Linked DNA regions of Homo sapiens: region 1 is linked to region 2. Evidence: fine-mapped expression QTL. A gene starts in region 2. The other region holds a variant in brackets. All regions are shown on one strand. Distances are from middle to middle. Region 1 overlaps IL17RA (interleukin 17 receptor A). Region 2 holds the start of IL17RA (interleukin 17 receptor A).

What was found.
Region 1: its variant is fine-mapped to the expression of IL17RA in whole blood (INTERVAL, PIP above 0.99).

What each region holds. Positions count from the first base shown.
Region 1 is chr22:17,107,889-17,116,197 of GRCh38, reverse strand. IL17RA (interleukin 17 receptor A) reads right to left here. Exons shown (of 13, transcript NM_014339.7): 13 at 505-7,891. The coding sequence ends at 6,378. Among named protein-coding and RNA genes, the nearest start is that of TMEM121B, 9.3 kb to the left of the region's middle. RefSeq lists an enhancer at 8,042-8,309. The variant C/T (reference allele first, on the strand shown) is at 3,403.
Region 2 is chr22:17,081,159-17,089,421 of GRCh38, reverse strand. It overlaps IL17RA (interleukin 17 receptor A), which reads right to left and starts at 4,422. Exons shown (of 13, transcript NM_014339.7): 1 at 4,193-4,422. The coding sequence starts at 4,330. RefSeq lists silencers at 3,640-3,889, 3,930-4,029, 4,280-4,399, 4,420-4,639 and an enhancer at 5,193-5,362.

The sequences.
Region 1 (8,309 bases), 27 kb before region 2:
GTGTTAACATTATGGGTACACCTTGGCCCTTCTAGGCAGTTGGCATGTTTTTCAGGGAGGCAGTGAAGCTGTGGCCTGGAGCTGGTGAGTGTCTTGACATGCTTTGTTGGCACAGCCAGCTCAGCTCTAATGGACTCAGCCTGAGAACGATTTTTTCTCATCACCCTCGGCTCTCTCTCACTTTTCTTTCCTTCCTTCTTTCTTTTTCTTTGTTTTTGAGACAGGGTCTCACTCTGTCACCTGGGCTGGAGTGCAGTGGCGCCATCATAGTTCACTGCAGCCTCAACCTCCTGGGCTCAAACAATCCTCCTGCCTCAGCCTCCCAAGTAGCTGGGACTACAGAAGTGTGCCACCACGCCCGGCTTCCCATTTCTTTCTAAAAGAGTAGCTTTCCAAAGGGGGAACATCTTGAGAAACTAATTTTTAAATACTGTGCCCTCCTCTATCACTCTTGCCCCAGCCAGAAGCACAAATTCTTACGTATGAATAAGAAGAACAAGGCCATGGGTTTTTGTTTGGTTTTATTTTAACATGAAGGGTAGTATTAAGTCTAAGCAAGAACACTGGGCCTGCACCAAAATAAACAAACACACAGTGATTTTTTTTTTTTCTTAGCACAGAGGCAGCCAGTATTACACAGCCCCTCTCTGTGTTGTGACCCTAGCTTGCTGCTTCTGGCTGTGCCAAATGCTAAGCAGGCGTTTCACTCAGGGCAGCCCGGGAGGCAAGGTCTGAGAGTGGAAGCTCCTGGGAGCCTGAGCTCTCTCTGCCTCTCGTTAGCTGTGGCTTTGGCCATCAACTGGAACTATGTCATTATTTATAAAACAGGAGCAATCACAGGGCTGTGGTGAGAATCACATGAGGTGACACATGTGAAATGGTCCTTTCCCCTAAGACATATATAATTGTAACAAGGAACAAAATTTACATAGAAAATAATTACAGAACAACGTAGGACCATGTCTTCATTTCTCCCTGGAGCGGATGTAAAATAAGGTGATTGATTTGAGCAAGCATGTTATGAATATTTAGAAATGTCTTCTAGGGAAGCAAGCTGGCGCTCACCGATTTTGGTTTGCCAGGCATATCAGAAGGCACTTTGTGACAGGTGCAGTAGGGACGCGGAGTGATCTCTTCACGTGTAGGCAATGCCCAGCCCACACCTAGGCCTTGCCTGAGTCTGGCCATGCAGTTCTTGCCCTAAGGAAGAACAGGAAAATATAGCGCGTGGTTGACTGTCAGGCCCTCTGCCCCTTCCCTCGTCACAGCCACCTTCAGGGCTGCTTTCTCTCCATTTTCCTGAGGCCGAGAAAGAGGAGGTAGCTGGCACAATGCCACATTGCAGTCAGGAAGAAAAGCCAGTGTGCACCAAGGCCCTTCTTCCTCCCACATCTGCACTGCTCCAGGCAACCTTCGGTAGTCGGCTGTTGCTTGGGTCCAGCTTCCTTTCCATGAAAGCTCAGCCATTCTAGCAAAAAAGCAGGGGCTGTTTTCATCTTCTGAGAGAATCCCATGACACTGGTGAGCAGAGGCGGCCAGTGGGACACCCGTGCAGGGAAGCAGGCAAATGCAGGGACCAGCCACCCGCATCCCTCCTTTCTACTCCCTCTCCTCCTCCTACCTGGTCACTGTGTACCTTCTTCCTGTCTCATCAGAGAGGAAGGATCCAGTGAGCGAACTCATCTTATAGTCAATGACCTAAGGGGTTATTCCTCCTGGGAAGGACTCCAGGGGGAGGTGGGCTGGGCCAGGCTTCCTGGCACACTTCAAACCATGAGACAGGAGACTGCATGTTCCTCCCACAGGCAAGACTGGCCCACCCGGGTGACTGCCTGCTTTCATCAACCTAAATGGACAGGGCGAGAGTGTGGACCCAGTGCTAGGATCTGGGAGAGGCGATGGGGCATGGAGAGCCATGCAGAGGTGGAGGGCAAGATGGACCTGGATGCCATTTCAGAGTGAGGGGAGGCCCCGTGGGGAAAGCGTCGGGTACAGAATTAACATGAACAGCTTGTGCAATGGGTTTAGGGGTAGCTGCTTTTCTTCATATTCTTCTATAAAATATACCCATGGAATCCATATTGTTGCCATTTTTCCACAATGGACATGTTCACTCAGCCAAGTACTTCCTGAGCTCCTGAGAGACGCCAAATATGGGAACACATATTACTTCTATAATCTGAAAAGGCAAACACCGGAGGAAGAGAGCAATACCTAATAGCAGGGAAAGAGGATCAGTGGTACCTCAGGGGGCACAAACTGCTCTGCCCCAGAAGCAGGCTGGTGCCACTCGGGGATACTGCAGGCTTGCCAGGACCCCATGAGGTGGGAACTCCTGCCCCACCCACTTTACAGATGAGCAAGCTACCTAGGGCGGACGAGCAGCTGGCCAGCCCCCAACCCTGCTGCCTCTTCTTTGTAAGGATCCTCTGTCCGACACAGTTGACTTGTGGGATGCAGGCCCGGCTGCTGGAGCAGCGGCCCTCCATCTCACTCTGTCCTCAGGTGCCCCGGGCCTTGCTGGAGTCCCAGCTGGCAGGGCGCTAAGGCAGAAGAGGGCCCTGCATACACCTCATTTATTTAGGAAGGGGAGCACCAACCACAGAGCCCAAAGGCTATAGAGTTAAAACCACCCACTGCATTGTAAGTACATCTTCTTCTCTCTTATGCCCTATTTAATTTTCAAAGATAAACAGGAAAGGCCAGGCACGGTGGGCTCAGGCCTATAATCCCAGCACTTTGGGAGGATGAGGCGGGCAGATGGCTTGAGCCCAGGAGTTCGTGACCAGCCTGGACAACATGGTGAAACCCCATTTCTACAAAATATATACACACAAATTAGCCGGGCACAGTGGTGCACGCCTGTAGTTCTAGCCACTGGCAGGCTGAGGTGGAAAGATGGCTTGAGCCTGGGAGGTCGAGGCTGCAGTGAGCCATGATTGCACCACTGTAATACAGCCTGGTGACAGAGAGACCCTGACTTAAAAACAAACAAAAAACCAAAACACAACAAAAGCAAGAAAGAAGTATATCCATCATACCCTTGCATTCAGAGATCCCAGCTCAAACTGCTGAATGGATGTTTCAGAGACCGAACACCACCCTTTTTAGACCCTAAACACCTTCAAGGACCTTCCTATGCAGAAAAGAGAAACTGGTTTTGAATCAAAGTAATTATTCCTTAAAAAAAAAAAAAACAAAAAAAAAACTAGGATCAAGATAGTAGGCAGGAAAAAGTCATGAAACTCTACGCGGGAGTTGGGAGCTTGTTGGTGGCTGCGTGCATAATCGGCCTGGACACAGGCATGGTTAGATGCTCCGCTGCTTCTTTCCCAACCGGAACCACCTCTGCACACTCAGGAGACGAGCTGAAGAGGTGGGAGGGGCACAGCGTGGAGGGCA[C/T]CTGTTCTTAGAGAGACATTTCTTGGTGAAACAATTTATTAGCCATGGTTCAGAATAATACAAAAATAAAGGTGTGGCTTTATTTACACACACTCTTGAAGCTCTTGGCATTCAGCGGACAGCAAACACCATACTCAGAGTGATGGAATTAATAGCATTTAGGGTAAGCAAGGACCAGTGTGAGACTGGGCCCAGGAAATGGGGAGGGAATGTGAGGAGAAACAGGGAATGACATTAAAGAAGAAACAGACACCTTGGAGAATTTATGACTCCTTTCTCTATGTCATGTCCAGAAGAGGCAAGTCTACAGAGATCAAAGTAGCCTAGGGGTGCCTAGGGATGGGGAGGTTGGGGTGGTGACTAAGGGGGGCTGGATTTCTTTTGGGGGTAGTAAACTCTAAGACTGACTGTGCTGATGGCTGCTGAACTGTGACTATACTAAACCGGCATCAAATTGTGCAGGGTCAATTGTGGATTGTATGGTAAGTGAACTGTACTCCAATAAAGCTGTTAGGAGGACAAAGGCAGCTGCCCTGGAGATAGTAGGCAATGCCCATCAGGACATTTACTGGCATGGGCTCAAAGGCCAGCAGAGCTAGAATTCAAGGTTCCTGAGGAATGGGAGCAGATGGGAACATGTGCTCTACGCAGGAAGAGTGCATTGTGGTATCCTGTACTCTGGGCGTCAAACAGTTATTTATTGGAAGCTAGGGAAAGGTCACAGAATGCATGGTAGGTGTCCAGACCCAACGAAGCCCCTCTCCAGGATTATTGGAGAGACTGAGCCCAAAAGGCTAGTGGCTGGGAGGCTTCTGCTCCTGTTCTCCTTTGCCTGGTCCTTTGCTGCTGTTGGGTGGATTATGGGCCATACACCATCTGGGACACAGAGCTTTGGTGGCCCTGCTACCACTAGGTAAAGTCTAACTGCAAGAAAAAACTCCGCAACTAGCAACTTCTTGACCTACAGTAAGTGGCTCGACCTTCCTGCTAGAAACTCTTACCAGATCAACAAATTTATGCACTTTTATTGATAATCTTTCACGCACATGTATGTGTGCGCACACACACATGCAAACTGTCCTGTTTGCTCTCCTGTCACATTTCCGAATCTTCTCCTCCTCACTGGAGGTTGGAAATATAGTTAAGGACTCAGGCATAGGAATGAAGGGCACCCTATTCCAGTGTCAGACGGCACCTCAATGTGTTCTTCAGGACCCTGAAGCCAGAAGCCTCTAGCCTACCCCCAGGAGGTACTTCAGGAACAAATTCTTCAAACACTGGCTTCAGAGCCTCTTTTCAAATGCTGTCTTTGGACCTCAGACCCTGAAGTCACAGCAGCACCCCTTCCCCACACAAGGTCTGCCCAGATCTTCACTGACCCACCACCCCTCATTTCCTTGCCCTTGCACCCTGGGGCTTCCTGAGCTCAGGGGAGCTCCAGCCCAGCTGCTCTGAAGAATCCTACGTGCTAACAGCTCCCCACTGATAGTCGGAACGCGGGTGCAGGGCTTCAGACTCACCTTCCTGCCAGATGCTTTTACGTTTCACCTCGACATTTCTCTCTTCCTATAAATGAACTCAGGTGACATCCAGCTGTGTTTAGCCCTCAGCCTCTCTCCATGCAGAGGCTCATCAGACGAAAGGTGCCCCAGGCCTCAGGACTGATGCGCACAAGGCTGTCCCCACCCCTGAGCTCTGGCGACATCCCCCCACCCCCCACCCCGATCTCTCTCACTGCCTCCCTCCTTCCCCTCCAGGCTCCACCAGCAGCTCCCTGACAAGCTCACTCCACTCACCTCCCAGCACTTACCCACAAACTGCTTCCTTGCTGGGACTACGCTTTCCCCAACCACAATCCTTCAGCTCAGGCATCTCCTCGGGGATCCCCCCTGACCTGGGTGCCTTTCCCGTGCATGCTCACAACCCTGGGCAGGCTTCCACTCCATCTTTCTACTTTTTTATTTTTTTTGAGACAGGGTCTCACTCTGCTGCCCAGGCTGGATTGCAATGGTACCATTATAGCTCACTGCAGCCTCTACCTCCTGGGCTCAAGTGATCATCTGGCATCAGCCTCCCGAGTAGCTGGGACTACAGGCATGTGCCACCATGACTGACTAAAAAAAAATTTAGGTAGAGATGAGGTCTCACTATGTCGCCCAGGCTGGTCTTGAACTCCTGAGCTCAAGCAATCCACCTGCCTCGCCTTCCCAAAGTGCTGGGATTACAAGCATGAGCCACTGCACCTGGCCCATTCAGCGTTTACATCCCGCGTGACCATCTTTTTTTTTTTTTTTTTTTGAGATAGAGTCTCGCTCTGTCATCCAGGCTGCAGTGCAATGGCACAATCTCGGCTCACTGCAACCTCTGCCTCCCAGATTCAAGCAATTCTCCTGCCTCAGCCTCCCAAGTAGCTAGGACTACAGGCATGTGTCACCATGCCCGGCTAATTTTTCTATTTTTAGTGGAGATGGGGTTTCACCATGTTGGCCAGGCTGGCTCAAACTCCTGACCTCAGAGTGATCCACCTGCCTCGGCCTCCCAGTGTGCTGGGATTACAGGCGTGAGCCACCGTGCCCGGCCCATCCTGTTCGTTTAACGTGTCCTCGGCACTAGCGGTTAAGTTCCTTCATGGCTGGGGCCATGCCGCATGCAATTTATCTTGGTATCCCAAATGCCCGCCACATAGTAGGTGCACAATAAATGCTGAATGAACGAATAATGGAGCCTCAAGGACGCTCTACCATTAGCTCCTGGGAGCGGGCTGTGTGGATTCCCCTGGGGATAGACGATAACCAGACCGCTGCACAAAGAAAAGTTAGGAGGGATGCCTGGGATTAAAATCCAGACATTTACATTTTAAAGCCTACATTTCACACACGAACATATACACATGCAGACATGTACACACAGATGAATACGTGCACACACACTCCTCTCTCAAAGCTGGGATCTGGGCGGTCCCTGGGGAGCCGCCCTCATGCACTGGGCCCCTCTGACTCTGACCCCATCGTGTCCCAGCCCGAGTTCTTCTGCAGCTGGCGGAAAAGCAGCTGCCGCTGGAGGCTCCTCAGGCTCTCCAGGTCCTCGGGAGAGAGTGGCAGGGCCGGCTTCCCTGGGTCCTGCTCCTCTTCCTCCTCTTCCTCCATTTCCGTGAGTCCCTCGGGGGGCTGCGGGGAGCTCCTGGAGATGTAGCCCTGGTCAGACTGCACTGACTGCCGCTGCTCCTCCTCGTAGGGCGTGTGTGGGTCTGTGAGGACCATGGCGGGTCTACTGCAGCCCCCCTGGGCCTGGCAGCTCAGACTCTGCTCGAAGAGCGAGAGCATCAAGCCTTCGAGGTGCTCCCTCACGTCCTCTGGAAGGAGGTCAGGAGACGCCATGGGGGTGCTGCTGCCAAGGGGCGAGTCCTCGGGGTCCACGGGGAGGAAGAGGACGCTATTTCGCCCAGCGCCCGGGCTGCCCAGCAGCGGGCAGGCCTCGCCCTCCCCCGCCAGTGCCAGCCGGACTGCGGCACCGTCAGCCAGGGGCCCAGGCTCCACCGCGGCCACCAGGGCCCCCTCCTCTGCGGCGAGCACCAGGGTGTGGAGGGGCTGCGGCGCTGGCTGACCCCGGGGCTGCAGGTGAGGTTCCAGCTTTGCCACTGCTGCTCCTCCTTCCTCCCCGACCAGCGGGTCTATGGCCAGGCAGGCCTGGGAGCCAGGCTCGCGCACCAGGGGCGCCCGCTTCACGATGCCGGTTCCCGGAGGCAGCAGTGGCTCCTCAAACACCTCTTCGTCCAGGGACGGGGCATCCTGGTCATCTGCTGAGTAGAGGTTCTCACATTCGAACCAGTCGGGACAGCGGACCTGCCAGTCCCGGAACCTGTCCAGGGCGGCGCGGAGCTGCCTGCCGCCCGGGCTCCGCAGGTAGTTGTCCCCCGACAGCTCCCCTACGCGGTGCATGCGGCCCGGCTGGAACATCTCCAGGTCCTGGATGCGGAAGTACACCTCCTCGAACCTGTCCATGAGCGGGTACCGCGGCGCCGCGCCGAACAGGTCGGGGACGTCGCCGTCACAGCTGACCTCGCTGAAGTAGCAGACTACGTAGGTGCCGAAGCAGGCTGGCCTCTTGAAGTCCGGGAGGATCATGTTCATGGCTGCAGTGAACAGGTCCCCCACGGGCTTTCCGTGGTCGCAGCGCAGCCGCACAGGCGCCCCCCGGCCCAGGAGCGCCTGCCACTTGGCGCGCGTGCCGCGGGAGCACAGGACGATGATCTTAGAGTTGCTCTCCACCATCTCCTGCTTCTGACGGCCCACCCAGGTCATGACTCCTGCCTCCGAGATGGCCTGCTCTTCCAGCAGGTCCAGGGCCACTTCCGTGCCGCAGGCGGTGAGCAGGAACTGGGCGAATTTCAGGACCACGTCCACGTAGAGGGGGTGGTCGGCTGAGTAGATGATCCAGACCTTCCTGGGCTTCAGCGGTGGGGGGATCAGGTCAGCCGCAGGCAGGCCATCTAAGGAAACAAGACCACACATGCTGACCCTCACCCCAGGGCCCAGGGCAGCTCTGTGCCTGCCAGCCCAGGAGGGGCCTGGACCAGGACACAGAGCTTGGCTCCCTCCCTAAGCTGAGAAACCCAACTGAGGCCTGTTGGAAAAACCCAGATGTTACTATTCCACCTTTGGCTGCCTGAAAAAAATCAGTCTGCTGCCTTGTGGGAAAAAGAATCTCTCAACGTTCCTAGCTGGTCTTTAGCCTATACTTTAATTAAGAAAAGAAAAAGAGGCACCAAGCTCTGTTGGTCTGCTCCAGGGAGGACCTCTGTTCACAAAATACTTACCTTTCTTTCCTTGTCTGAGTGATTCAAAAAATGGCACCCAGGCCTTGTTATTGGGGGCCCTTCTGAGTGGGGTACTGGAAGGGGGTTTCTA
Region 2 (8,263 bases):
ACATATATCTCATTTGATCTTGACAACAATCCTATGAGCTAAGCACCCTTATCCCAATTGTACTGATGAAAAAACTAAGACCCAGGGAGGTTGGGTAAGTGGCTCAAGGTCCCACAGAGCTGGCATTTGCATGACGAAGTTTTGCTCCAGAATACATGATCTTAATCTCTGCTGCCTTGTCTCTCTAAATAACAAAAGGGGCCAGGTGTGGTTGCTCACACCTGTAATCCCAACATTTTTGGAGGCCGAGGTGGGCAGATAAAGAGTTCGAGACCAGTCTGGCCAACCTGGTGAAACCCTGTCTCTACTAAAAAAATTAAAAAATTGGCCAGGCGCATTGGCTCACGCTTGTAATCCCAGCATTTTGGGAGGCCGAGGCAGGTAGATCATTTGAAGTCAGGAATTCGAGACCAGCCTGGCCAACATGGTGAAACCCCGACTCTACTAAAAATACAAAAATTAGCTGGGAGTGGTGGTGCGCACCTGTAATCCCAGCTACTTGGGAGGTTGAGGCAGGAGAATCGCTTGAGCCTGGGAAGTGGAGGTTGCAGTGAGCTGAGATCGCACCACTGCACTCCAATCTGGATGACAGAGTGAGACCTTGTCTCAAAATAAAAATAAAAATAAAAAAATTGGCCAGGTGCGGTGGCTCACACCTGTAATCCCAGCACTTTGGGAGGCCGAGGTGGGCAGAACACTTGAGGTCAGGAGTTCCAGATCAGCCTGGCCAATATGGTGAAACCCCATCTCTACTAAAAATAACAAAAATTAGCTGGGCATCATGGTGCATGCCTGCTAGTCCCAGCTACTTGGGAGGCTGAGGCAGAAGAATCGCTCAAACCTGGGAGGTGGATGTTGCAGTGAGCCGAGATCATGCCACTGCACTGTAGCCTGGGCGACAGTGTCTTTCTGTGTCAAAAAAACAAAAAACAAAAATCGGCTGGGTGTAGTGGTGGGCGCCTGTAATCCCAATGACTCGGGAGGCTGAGGCACAAGAATTGCTTGAACTCGGGAGGCGGAGGTTGCAGTGAGCTGAGATCGCACCACTGCACTCCAGCCTGGGCGACAGAGCAAAACTCTCTCAAAATATAAATAAATAAATAAATAAATAAGGGATACCTCCAATAGGCCACTATTCTCTACCCACAAGGTGAAGGTTAAGAGGAAGAAATGGAAGATTGTATTCAATTCTGTGCCTCAGTGAACACTACTGAGTGCCTGACAGAGAAAGTGGGCTTTGAACTTACAAGCACAGCCTGCTTTCAATCTCACCTTAGCACTCATTAGCTGTGCGACCTTGGGCCAATAACCCAGCCTCTCAAAAGCAGGTTCATCCTGCCAACCTTGTAAGCTGTCGTTGAGTATGGGATGAAGGAATACTTGTGAGCCACCGGCACAGTGCCTGGCACAAAGAACACAACTTTGTAGCCTCTGGAAGAGTGGCATGATGAAAGTGGCTTCTGGCAAGCAAAAGATAAAGGGGTTAAACTGAGCAGCTGTTCTACAACCACAAGTCAAAACCGCAAACGCTCAGGAAAAAAGACTCTGTAATGAAATACACATCCTGTCTATGAAATTACGTGTTAACATTTACCCTGACCAACTCTTAAGTTGCTGCTGTCTTTCCTATGGGCATTCCTCCAGGCTGGCGGTCATGGGAAACCTGCATGAAGCCTAGGCAGCGAGAACGGCTAACCAAAAGGAAACTCCCAGGGAAATGCAATTATTGATGGTTTCTCGTGTAATGATTTCTGTGGGGAAATCAGTCATCTGGGTTTTGAGGTGCTAACCCCAAGCATCTGGAACCATTGCTATGGTTGGTCTCAGCTTGCCACTACCTTCCAAGCAGAGCTGACCGTTCTTTCCTTCATTCATGCATTCTTTTGTTCAGTCAACACATATGTATCAAATAGCCCCCGCATCCTGTGCTCCAGCACTGAGCTAGGAACAGGCCAGGTGTGCAGAAGCCTCCTCCCTGTCTGAGGATAGTTATGGAAGGCTAAATCGAACTGGGCTTTGGACAGACACTTACATTCTGGAAGGTGGCATGGACTTACTTTGAGAAGGCTCACCCAGTCCTGCCTTTGTGGAAATGAGGGAACCCAGGCCCAGGCAGCCTCAAAGCCCGACTGCAGAGACAGTAAGTGCGATGCTGCCTGCAAATCCAGGTCCTCTGGCCACCTCTGTGGCCTTCCCTCCCCTCACTATACCACATTGCATCCACTAAAACACCAGTGAGGGACAGAAATTTGAAGGATGTGTTTTCTTTCTTTTTAAAAGAACTAGTCAATGGAGCCCAGAGCTGTCTATCTCTGGAGAAGAGCTGTCTGTGAGGCAGGTGTATACAGAAGAGAGAGAGAGGAAGGAAGAGAACGAGAGACTGCAGACAAATATGAACAGCAAGTGTCTCTCTTCAGCCCTCCCTGGAGCCAGGCCGTGCTTCTGCTCCTGACTTACAGTTGCTTCACTGTGCAGTGAAAGTCAGAGCTTGGCTCCCACGCCACGCACAGCAGAGTCCCATCCCCGCTTCTGGCATCTTTTCTCACTGTCCTATTACACAGACCCTCCATTCCGGCCACACACCGTACCCTGTCCCACTTAAGGACCTTGGCTCAGGCCCTTTCCACCACCTGGAATGCTCCTGCTACCCCCACAGGGCTGCCCAAATGCCTTTTCCATGAAGGACACCCCAACTGGAAGCAATTTTTCTTTTTCCTGGAATTCCGTACACTTAGCAGTTGTGCAAGCAGCTTTGCTAGACAGTTCCCTAACTTCAAGCCTTGTTCCTCCCGTAGATGGGTTAGGTCTCTGGATATTAGGGTCCCCAGAGTATTTATTTATAGTTCCAGTTCCCAGTATGGCGCCCTGTACTCTGCAGGCACCTGACCAATGGCTGTCAACCCAGGCGCACCAACCCTCCATATCAGAACGCTTCATACACAGCCTGCAGGAGGGACTAGCAGGGCAGAGGGACCTGCTTTGCCCAATAGTGGAAGTCACAGGACATTTCTCAACATCATTCACGATAAAAACATCTTTTTTTTTTTTTCTGCGACATAGTCACTCACCCTCCACCTTCTTTCGGTAAATCCTCCATAAAACTACATAAGGAGAAATATCCCTTTGTTTTACATCCTCTGACTCAGATACTGAGCATTATTCCTTGGGGTCAGCGGTGGAGGTGGAGGTGGAGGTGGAGGGGAGGAAAGATCCCCTCGGGGATGCGGGGAAGAGGAGAGTATATTGTGGAGGGGCACGGCGTTTTGCTCTTTTTTTGTTTTTTTCCTTAAGATGGTCCTGGCTCACAGAAAGGCCACTACCCGGCAGGCGGGTGGGTCACTTCCTGTGGGCGCAGCGGGGCTACGACTTGACAGCTACAAACGTTCGACCCTCCGACTGCGCTCTCACCGGGTTCCCAGACCCAGGTGGTGGTAGTCGGGGGTGGGAGTGGCGGGAAGGGCGCCGTCTTAAGAACCATCTGCCCATCCTCAGGGCTTCGCGCCTCTGGGGAGGTGGCCCTCAGCCGCCCTCGGCAGAGCTCTCCCCGAAACATGGTGCCGCGTCTCAGCGCTCCGGCCCCCGCGTGGCTCTACGACAGCGGGGTCCCTCTGGGGGCCGCGGGTGAGGGACTCCACCTTCCGCACGGACGACGTGGGCTCGCCCGGCTCCGTCGGCGGCATGAAGGGCACGGCTTGAGGGAAGCTCCCGAGGGCGCGATGGGCCTCCCGAGGGCCGACCGTGCCCCGCCGGGGTACGTGAGGGGCGCAAGGCGTGGAGCTGGGTCCAGACCCGTCCTGGCTCCTCCCCGGGCCCCTTCTCCACAGCCCCTTTCTATCAGCCCTGGCCGCCCCTCCGGCCTGGCCCAGCGCCGCGCCCTCCTTCCCCGAACTCCGCGGCCCGGGCGGAGGTGTCACTCCCGCCTCCAGTCACGACGGCGGGCCAGGTTGTGCAACACGCGCCGCGCGATGTGCCACCCACCCCCCCCGTATTCCACACCGCAACTCCCACCGCTCCGAGGGTCCTCCCCAGGCGCCGCGATATCTGTGCCCAAGGCTCTGAGCCCCTCTAAGCCCGCGGCGCGGACTTCCTGCCTCCCCAGCCCGGGCGCGTAGTCCCGACCGTCCGGCCCTCCGCGACCTTGCCCCGCGTCCGCAGCATCCTGGCGGCTACCGCTCCCCACGTCGAGTCTCACCGGCTGGGAGCAGACCAGCGCCCGGTGGTCCAGGAGTCGCAGGGAGGCGCCACCCGGGGCCAGCACGCCCAGGAGCAGCAGGAGCAGCCCCAGCAGGGGCCCCGGGACAGCGGACGGCGGGCTGCGTGCGGCCCCCATGGCCCGGCTGGCGTCGCGGAGGGCTCGGCCCCGGCTGGGGACGCAGCGAACGAACGTTCTGAGGCTTTCTTTTCCGCGGTGGAGTTCGAGTCGGCTCCACTTTGCTCGCTTCCGGCTTCCAGCCCGGGCCCAGGGGCGGGCCGGGCCGAGGGGAGGAGTTTAGTCTGGGACGGGGAGGGGTTTAGGGTGAGACAGGGCCCTCCCCCCGTTCCTCCTTGCGCCCCTCCTCTCGGCCCTACGCTCAGTCCTCCGGGCGTCCCTACCCAGTCCTTCCGGCGTCCCTCCCCGGCCCTCCTCCGCCCGCGCGCCCCAGGTGCGCTCCTCCCGCTGCTCCTGGGCCTGGCCCGTCGCGCCTCCAGTTGCACCCGCGTCGGGCTAGCGTCAACTCCAGCTGGAGCCTCGCCTGCCCCACATGCACCCTCCACCCTGGCCGTGCCGCAGCAACTGTCGATTTTAATCCTCCGCCCCCACTCACTTGATTCTTGGCCCTGTTCAGACTTCTTGCTTCTCTTGTGGGTCACTGGACGTGAAATCCCAACTTGGGATTTCAGGAAGTCCGTTTTCTTAGTCTCTGTCCCTTTTATTTTTGTTTTTTATTTTACTTTATTTTTAGACAGGGTCTCCCTCTGTCTCCCAGGCTGGAGTGCAGTGGTGCAACCGCAGCTCACTGCAGCTTCGGCCTCCCGGGCTCAAGCGATCCTCCTGCCTCTGCCTCCTGAGTAGATGGAAGCGCGGGCCATATCCCATTTTATTGTCCCCACCCCTTTGCCTGGTTCTGCTCGCTCTGCTTTCCTTGGCTTTGCTTTCTCTTTCTCAAGACAAGGACAGCTCCGGGCTCCAGGGAGGATGGGACAGCAGTCACTTCCAGCCTCCTGGCTCGGACTCGGGGACACTTGAGTTCCTGGAGGGCAGGCAACTTACCTGGTCTGTGAGACTGTGTCCCAGCCGCACCTAAGAGAGTCGTTACTTCCCAGAGGCTCACTCCACGGCCGCGGAAGCTGTCGCCAGCGAATTACACATTTCATGAGTCTCCTTCTTAGCACGCGTGCAGCCTGCGTCCTCTCCTCTCCGGACCCTGGAGGACCCTCCCAAGCCGGCCCGCGCTGCCTCTATCCTAGGTTCCTGCTTCGAGCCCGTCCTGCCCTAGTGCATCCACACGCTCCTGCCCATTCGCCTCTCCTCTCTTCCTCCCAAGACCACCACCGTCCGCTTTTCCTTGCCTATCAAGTGCGCCTCTGCCTGGCCTTGACACGCACGGAGTCTACACTCAAGTGGCTTTTCCCTGTATTTTCCACTGCCCTCGAGAGGTGGGTTTTTTCGCTGCCCGAAGCACCCGCTGACCCCCAGCGACATCTCTATGAGCCCCGCCCGCAGACACGACCCAGCTGAATGAAGCCTGAAGCTCAGTGGCCTTCAAATTGTCTGTTTCTAAAAGAATTTTGGAAAACTGCATCCTCTCATGCATTTTAAAGATGACATCTAAAATTCTCCATCCTAAGTCTAAATAGATGTAGAGGATGTAACTGTTACTTAAAAATCAGCGGTTGTCGTAGGCAGCTTCTAAGATGTGTTCTAGGATCCCACCCCCTGGGAGTCACGACCTTCTGAATCCTCCTCGCGGAGTGTGGGATGGACCCAGAGGCTTGGTTCTAACAATAGAATATGAATAGAAGAAGACAAAAATGATGGGATGTCACTTACAAGATTAAGTTACAAAAAGATCCTGACTTCTGTCTTGCCCAGCCCCTCCCTCTGAGCTCCTAGCTCTTAGGGAAGCCATGCTGGGGCCCAAGTGGCAGAGAATGAGAAAGGCCTCTGCCCAGTGCAAGACACTGAGATCTTCATTTCATCATTGCCATTATTAGTACATAATTGATAAAAAATAATGTAAATATAATACATGTTAATAAGTAATTAAACATGAATTACTTGAAATTCATTTTATTCCTAATTAGTTGATGTATCTGTGAACAAATATTGCTTATTCATAGAACAAAGCAACATTCAGCATTTAAGAAATATTTTATTTTTCTTCTTTTTTTTTTTTTCTTTTTGAGATGGAGTCTTGCTCTGTCATCCAGGCCGGAGTGCAGTGGCGTGATCTCGGCTCACTGCAAGCTCCGCCTCCCGGGTTCAGTCCATTCTCCTGCCTCAGCCTCCCGAGTAGCTGGGACTACAGGCACCTGCCACCACGCCCGGCTAATTTTTTGTATTTTTAGTAGAGACGGGGTTTCACCGTGTTAGCCAGGATGGTCTTGATCTCCTGACCTCATGATCCGCCCGCCTCGGCCTCCCAAAGTGCTAGGATTACAGGCGTGAGCCACCATTTTTCTTCTTTTTAAAACATTGAGACAGGGTCTCACTATGTTACCCAGGCTGGTCTTGAATTCCTGGGCTCAAGTCATCCTCCTGCCTCAGCTTCCCAAAGTACTAGGATTACAGGCACGAGCTACCACCCCAGGCTAAAAATATTTTAGATGTAAGCCTTAAAAAATTGCTTACATAAATAATTATATTTGTCTCATCAATTCTTTGAACCCGTTTTCAGTCATATGCAAAGATCACATAGCCATCTTGTCACCTTTTTTTTTTTTTAAATAGGGTCTCACTAAACGGCCCAGGCTAGACTCAAACTCCAGGGCTCAAGAGGTCCTCTCATCTCAGCCTCCCAAGTAGCTGGGATTACAGGTTTGCACCACTGTGCCCAGTCAAATATTTTTGATTTGGCAACTGACAACTTGATTGGGTCCTCCTTCAATTTTAGTAAGGCAATATTTGGAACCTACCTCACTTGCAAAAAAATAGATGTCTATCTATCTATCTATCTATCTATCTCTGTATATCGATATGTGTATATACCTATCCTGTGATCAGAGTCCTATTACACAATGGTATCTGGTACTGTTGCTATGTCTAGTGCCCAGGGGCTTTTTAAATTTTATTTTATTTTATTTATTTTTTTTCTGAGATGGAGTCTTGCTCTGTCGCCCAGGCTGGAGTGTAGTGGCAACCTCCGCCTCCCAGGTTCAAGCAATTCTCCTGCCTCAGCCTCCTGAATAGCTGGGATTACAGGCACATGCCACCACGCCCAGCTAATTTTTGTATGTTTAGTAGAGATGGGGTTTCACCATGTTGGCCAGGCTGGTCTCGAACTCCTGACCTTGTGATCTGCCCTCCTCAACCTCCTAAAGTGCTGGGATTACAGGGGTGAGCCACTGCTCTGGGCCCCCAGGGGCTTTTTTACACATTCTAAAATGTGTCCCCCAAATTTCACATGTTAGAAACTTAATACCCAGGACTGATGAGAGGCCTACCTTTCTTTTGAAAGTGGGAGAAGGACAAGTAGGAAACAAAAGTGTGGGGAAGGAAGGGAGCCTCCACCCACACCTGACATCTTCACAGCTGGTACCTTTCCTGGCAGGCAAGTGTCTGGAAGAGGACATGGGGATGTTGAGATTCTGGAGGTCCATTCCCTTCAAATCTATTCCCTTCAAGCCAGGGCCAGCAAGTTTTTTTTTTCTGGAAAGTATCAGATAGTAAATACTTCAGGCTTTGCCAGCCATATAGTTCTGTCCCAACTATTCAACTCTGCCCTTGTAGAAGCCATTGACAATATGTAAACAAAGGAGTGTGTCTGTGTTCTAATAAAACTTTATTTATGGACACTTACATTTAAATTTCATATAATTTTCATTTGTCCAAACATATTATTTCCCTTTTGATTTTTTCCCCTGACCATTTGAAACTGTAAAAACCAACTTAGCTCCCCGGAGGGTACAAAAACAGGCAGTAGAACAGATTTGGGCCATAGGCCCTAGTTTACTGATGTGTGCCCTAAACTTTCCAAGGCGTGCCCCTTGGAAAGTCTTCATGTAACCTCAGGGTAATGTGTACTCTCATTTGAAATTGCTATCCTGGTTCTCAACTCTGCCT